Homo sapiens: one gene and its partner. The protein of the gene in region 1 interacts with the protein of each later gene in a pairwise test. Each region holds a gene or a part of one and is shown in the gene's direction. Other genes may lie near its edges.

Region 1 (3,658 bases):
GAACTACTTAAAATTCCTTAAAATATTCTTACAGAATGGACACCAAGGTGGCATTATAGGAATATATTTCAATTAGAGTTAAATTATATGTGGTAAAAGAAAAGCATATTCTTATAAGGGCATTATTTTAAATACTTTTCTAGTCACTAATGTTTTTCTAATCAACATATAAATACTTGGAAACGGTGGTATACCTAATAAGATCAGGAAGTTTTTTTCCCAGATCACAGTAGTATCAAATAGTTGCTTGTAATTTTTCCTCACTTCTGTAATATAAAACTATATTTAAAGGTATAGTCTCTAATATAAAAATCTTTAAATGGAAGTTTCATATGTATTTTTTACTTTGGTACTTTCAACATTTATAATATGTTGAACTTAAGCAGTACAATGTTTTGGTTAGATTCTTCTCATTTATACATATACATATATGTATTATATATATTTATATTTATATATGTTATATATATGTATGTGTGTATATATATACCTATATATATATATATATATATATATATATATATATTTTTTTTTTTTTTTTTTTTTTTTTTGAGAAAGGGTTTTGCTCTGTCACCCAGGCTGGAGTGCAGTGGGACCATCTCAGCTCACTTCAACCTCTGTCTTCCTGACTCAAGCCATCCTCTCACCTCAGCCTCCCAAGTAGCTGGGACTGCAGGCATGTGCCACCACGTCTGGCTAATTTTTTTGTATTTTTTGTATAGGTGGGTTTCACCATGTTGCCCAGGCTGATCTCTAACTCCTGGGCTCAAATGATCTGCCTGTTAAGGCTCCAGAAGTGCTGGGATTACAGGCATGAGCCACCAGGCCTGGCATAAAAATTTTCTTTAGAACAAAAAATATTTTTAACTGAAAAAAGGGAATTTTAAGTATATACCTTACTATTATTGGATTAGTCATCTCAGGCTTTACTCCTGGCTCATTTATTTTATGATCTTGGTTATATAAGCAAAGTTTAATGTTCCAATTTTTCAATGAGGTAAAATGAAAAGGTTGAAATTTTACCATCTTTTGGAATATTTGAAAGTATTGACCACAGGAATCAGATTTTTAGTCTAATTATTGATATATTAGTTTGCATAAGAGAAGAAATTAATTTTTCGAGACAGCTTCTACCTCTTTCATACACATGAATGAAGTCTTTGATTAAATGATAAAAATATTATCTTCTCAGATCGTTTCAGTTTTCTAAATACTGAATTACTTTAAAATATATTATCTTAAGCTCAGAAGTACATCTTCTGAAAAATAATGTTTTTCTTAACCAGAACTAATAATTTAAAAGTTCAGCATATAATGGGCAATCCTCTTAACTAGCCCTTCCTCTTCCATTTTTCCTTTCCTCTTTTGCTGTTATATTAAATCATATCTTACACTTAAGATATGATTTTTTTCAGTGGAATTATTGATTTTACATATAGCAACCATTTTACTTATCTTAAATCATTCGCTTAGAAAATTTACTTATTTACTAATGAGTAAAACTAAAGTGAAAAACTCATTAAAACATTATTATATGCACACACATAAAAGACCTTTAGTTTTTAAAAAATTTCTCAAACCAGTTAATTTTTTGCCGTGGTGTTCTTCAACACTCCCTAGTACAAAGGTGCCATTAGAAAGCAAGCAAGAATAGTTTTGAGCTGATTTTTAGAATGTATTTTTTAAACAATGGTAGGTTCAAGATGAGGAATAAAAGAAGTAGACCTTTTCTTATATAAGAAGTACTAGGAATAATGGGTTATTGGCAGTATCAAAAAAACAAGATTCTTTTCCAAATTCATATGTCTCATAGAATTTAGTGGTCTGAAACCATTAGAAGCATAGTTCTTCCAGGGGTTAATAATATATTCTGCCAATAGCCAACTTAGTTATTGGACCAGGGACAAAGTCTCAAACATACATATTTGTCTAAATATTTTACCTTTCTGCAGGACACCTCAGTAGAATATGTAAAAAAATCCTTCCATTTATTTTACTAATTTTGTTAGGCCAGAAGTTTTCATTTTTCTCCTTTTATATAAATCAGTAAAAGCAATTTCAGTAGGTCCAAGAAAATAAAAAACATTTATTCCAAGCCAGTCTCCCCACTGTATTTGTTTGCAGCCTTACATCTGTCAGAGAGTAAATAGTTGACTATTTTTTCCATTTTGTACTTTTTATTCATTTAATATTCCTTATGAACCATACCATACATTAAGTTCTTTTAAAATATTTTTGTTTTACGAAACGTAGATTTAATAGAAGATATAGGACTTAAAGAAGAATTGGGTAGCCTTCTTAAGCAATTCATCTAACATGAGCTTGTGCAAATTGTTTTAAACTTTTCCTGATGGTAAATTTGAAACTAATGATTCCTTCTGCCTTTAATTTATGGGTTTTTTTGCAAGTATCAAGTAATATGTTTGTAAAAATACTTAGTAAGCTGTGAACAACAATTCAAAATTGATGGTAGGATTATGAGCATATTGAAATTTTTTGCAGAATTTATAAACTCAGAAATACTGAAAAGAGCAAGACCTTTGATTTACTAAAATGTTTCATTTTAGTTAATGGGGTGGTATAGAGTGGTGTTCACTCTCTTATATGTAATATAAATACTTATAGCAGTGTGATCATCCCTGGTTACTGATATAAACTAGATTTTACATAGTACTACGTTTTAAAAGAAGTAGATTAAATGATTTTACATTCATTTTTGGAAAAATACCTTAGGGCCACATAATGATTTTTCTTTCAAAAATATTTTAAAAACTAATGATAACTAAAATGTAAAGCTTTACAGGAATTAACAAAGATACATTCACATTCCCATTTTTGTCAAGGAGATATTGAATACTTTCTTTTTCATATGCAGCCACCTTGGTAGCCCATCTGCTTTATTAGGATTGCACTATTAAGGTTACCATAAATTACTAACAAGTATGCCTCCCAAATTCTTAACTTACTCAGTAATCTTTGCAATTATAGAAAAACAGAACTTAATTTTATCTTATTTATTAGAACTCAAGTCTACTTCATTTTGAAAATAGGTAAATACAGATGACTCTGAATTTGCCACCTTTCACTTTACATTTATATTGCTTCACTATTAAGGAAAAATGCTGGCACTCTAGACCCATTGAAAGACTCACTTGGGGGTTTCTTTTTAGGAGAGCTGGAAACAGAGAATTCTTTTTGTTATATTGGCAGGTTTTAGTTTCTTCAGGGATTTGTTGTTGTTGTTTTGTCTCTTTATTTTGGTCTAAATATCTTCAAAACTTCAGTGATGGAAATATGTTTTTTTTAAAAATACAAATTAAATAAAATTTAGCTCTTCCTACAATAGTTTGGGCTCTAAATGATTTCTCTCGATCAAACTTCCATTTATTTTTAATATTTTATATATTCACCCATTTCATTTTTTAGGAGATTTTATGAAGATGGAGCAATTGTCTTGGGTGAAGAAGCAAATATGCTTGCTGGCATGCTTCTAGGACTCAATGCTATTGATTTCAGGTACTTAACCAAATGCATTCAGTTTTTAAATTATTCTATATCTTAATAGTTTCTACTTATGATTTTTTTCTTTCAGTTGTCTAAGTAAAGCACACAGTTGGATATTGTTATTTGATTCATGTTGTTCTCTTTCAAATGACAT
Region 2 (3,658 bases), on another chromosome or scaffold:
ACTTTGGAGGCTGAGGTGGGAGAATCACCTGAGCCCGGGAAGTCAAGGCAGCAGAGAGCCAAGATTGCTTCCGCATTTGCACTCCAGCCTGAGTGATAGAGTGAGACCCTGTCTTAAAAAAAAAAAAAAAAAAGTGTGTGGGCCTGTCAGAGTCTGTTGGCTGTTGGGGGGAACTAGCTATAAGTTAGGATCAGAGGCATCTACCATAGGACCAAAAGACCTGTTGGAGGCTACTCTGGGCACAGTGCCTGTGGAGTAGCCCTACTCGCCAAGGAGCAGTTTAAAAAAAAAAAGACCTGTCGCACAGACAGGATGTACCAGGTAGCCCACTTTGGGTCTCATCTGTAGTCTGGTCTAGAGCTCTTGCCAGTTCTGGTTTTTCCTTGCTGGTTAAGAATGGTAGGTACTTTGGACTTCCAACTGACTTGGGCATGAAATGGAACCTCCACACCACCCCTTGTTCTTCTACCCGGGCAAATTATAGAGCTGGTCAAGATTTGAGATGGACCTGCAGTGAAGACTCAGCTTAGGCGATGTCATCTGTCCTTCATTGTTCGTTGTTTGGAAAACTAGTGGTCTCAGTGAGGGACATCTCTCAGCCTAAAGACAGATAAGGCAAACACACACCAAAAAATCAACAAGTTTGACATTTTTAAAAAGGGCTTATGTATTTGGGAAGTAAATATGACATAGGATTTTTATCTTTATATTAAATATATTGCTAAGAGAAAAACAGAGACCACAGTAGGTAAATAAGCAAAGCATAATAAACAGATTACATATTTTTAAAATAATTATCACATATCAAATTAGCTTATTTCCTCTCCTTATGATTTCACTTTCTTGTATTAACATTTTTACAAGAAAATACAAAAACATTTATTTCATAGATGCACATGTGCAAGTATATAGGTTAAGAATAGTATATAAACACACACACACACACACACACACACACACACACACACACACACATGTCCAATGGAGTACACCCACAAATATATTTTCTCACCAGTAAGTATATACTCTTGGCAAAATATGTGGTTTGGTGGGTAAGAAAAAAGTATGTAAAAGGAGGAAAGCCATTTACTAGAGAGTACATATAAACGAGAAAATAGGTGGGCAAAAAAGAAAGGGTTAAGCAAACTCTGGGCACTAATTGGGTCCATAGTCACATCCTTTAAAGTCGTTGTTTAAGATTTATAATTTGACTGACTTCTGGTTTGACAACAAAAGACTGTTGACTTCTGCAGTTCTCTCCCATCCCTCCCTTTTTAAAAGCTAATAGCTAGTGCAGGTGAGGGCACAGTTAAACTGACATATTGCTGTTGATTTTACGAATTGTACAAATTCTCTAGAAAGCAATTTCTTTTTTCTTTTCTTTTTCTTTCTTTTTTTTTTTTTTTTTTTGAGACAGTGTCTTGCTCTGTCACCCAGGCTAGAGTGCAGTGGTGCAATCTCAGATTACCTCAACCTCTGTCTCCCAGATTCAAGCAATTCTCCTGTCTCAGCCTCCCAAGTAGCTGGGATTACAGGCACATACCACCATACCTGGCTAATTTTTGTATTTTTATTAGAGATGAGGTTTCGCCATGTTGGCCAGGCTGGTCTCGAACTCCTGACTTCAGGTCATCCACCTGCCTCGGCCTCCCAAAGTACTGGGATTACAGGCGTGAGCCACTGTGCCTGGCTAGAAAGCAATTTGATCAAGTTATTTTCTTCTCTGATGAAATACCTTACTTCTTGAAATCAATCAATAAAACCACTCAAAGTATAGGTTATGTGCATAAAACTGTTGCATTGTCATTGGTAGCAGAGATATAGAAATGATCTGCCTATCCACCTATAAAGGCATGGTTATAAATCTACTTCACATCCTTTATTGAATAAACTGGGTTATAGTAAAGTGAGCTGGACGGGATGGGGAAATAAGCAGAATCAATGGAAGGAGATCAAAATTATTAACAGAAATAGGGTTGGAAGTGTAGTAATATATTCTAAAATATTTTAAATGAAGTTTTATTACTCTATAATGCGGCCAGGCGCAGTGGCTCACGCCTGTAATCCCAGCACTTTGGGAGGCCGAGGCGGGTCGATCACCTGAGGTCAGGAGTTCGAGACCAGCCTGGCCAACATGGTGAAACCCTGTCTCTACTAAAAATATAAAAATTAGCTGGGTGTGGTGGCACATGCCTCAAATCCCGGCTACTCAGGAGGCTGAGGCAGGAGAGTCACTTGAACCTGGGAGGTGGAGGTTGCAGTGAGACGAGATGGTACCATTACACCCCAGCCTGGGCACCACTGCACTCCAGCCTGGGCAACAAGAGAGAAACTCCATCTCAAAAAACAAAAATGCATTTAAGTAGAAAATGTATGTAAAGAAAAAATAGATAAGTAGTGTCATATCACAGTCAACATATATCCTTGTGTCTCTTTTTTTTTTTGAGACAGAGTTTAGCTCTTATCACCAAGGCTGGAGCATGATCTTGGCTCACTGCAACCTCCGCCTCCTGAGTTCAAGCGATTCTTCTGCCTCAGCTTCCTGAGAAGCTGGGATTACAGGTGCCTGCCACCACACCGGGCTAATTTTTGTATGTTTAGTGGAGATGGGGTTTCACCATGTTGGCCAGGCTAGTCTGGAACTCCTAACCTCAGGTGATCCACCTGCCTCAGCCTCACAAAGTGCTGCAATTACAGGCATGAACCACCATGCCCGGCACCTTGTGCCTATTTTTTAGAATATTTTTTATTTTTTAAAATTCTTTTTTACCTCCATTCTCTTAGAATGTGATAGAATTTTTTTTAAAATTTTATTTATTTATTTATTTTGAGATGGAGTCTTGCTCTGTCGCCCAGGGTGGTGTGCAGTGGCGCGATCTCGCGTCACTGCAACCTCCACCTCCCGGGTTCGAGCAACTCTCCTGCCTCAGCCTCCCGAGTAGCTGGGACTGCAGGCGCACGCCACCACACCTGCATAATGTTTTGTATTTTAGTAGAGACAGGGTTTCACTGTCTCCCAGGCTGGTTGCGAACTCCTGAGCTCAGGCAATCCGCCCGCCTCGGCCTCCCAAAATGCTGGGATTACAGGCATGAGCCACCGCGCCCGTCCTAGACTATCTTAAAATATGTGTTTCCTTTACTTTCCTGCTTCAGTGAATTTATAACCAATGCTGTGGTTTTGCATGGATTTTTAAAGTATGAGGAAAAGAGATGATTGAAAACTTCGGTTGTCAGGGTAAAAACTGAGTAGTGAATTTCAATGTACTTTTAAATGAAAAGTCTCTGACCACAGTATATAATTATTTAGGAAAATCTCATCTGTATTTAACTACTATGCTTATTTTTGAAAAGTTGAATCTTGAATATCTCTCTTTGATATATATTTTTTTCTCTTTTTCTTTTCTTTTTCTTTTTTTTTTTTTTTTTTTTTTGAGAAAAGATTTCACTCTGTTGCCCAGGCTGGAGCACAGTGGCACAATCACAGCTCACTGCAGCCTCAACTTCCTGGGCTAAAGTGATCCTTCCACCTTAGCCTCCTGAGTAGCTGGGACTACAGGCACACGCCACCACGCCCAGCTAATTTTTTTTTTTTTTTCGTATTTTCTGTAGAGACAGTTTCACTGTGTTTCTCAGGCTGTTCTCAAATTCCTGGGTTCAA

What was found. The genes of interacting proteins can lie anywhere in the genome.
Region 2: the proteins of RUNDC3B (region 1) and CSNK1G1 interact in a two-hybrid assay, tested with the Homo sapiens proteins (one large-scale study listed by BioGRID and IntAct).

The regions. Positions count from the first base shown.
Region 1 is NC_000007.14:87,736,365-87,740,022, forward strand, and holds part of RUNDC3B (RUN domain-containing protein 3B), read left to right. Parts: intron 1-3,426; coding exon 3,427-3,516; intron 3,517-3,658.
Region 2 is NC_000015.10:64,199,024-64,202,681, reverse strand, and holds part of CSNK1G1 (casein kinase I isoform gamma-1), read left to right. Parts: intron 1-3,658.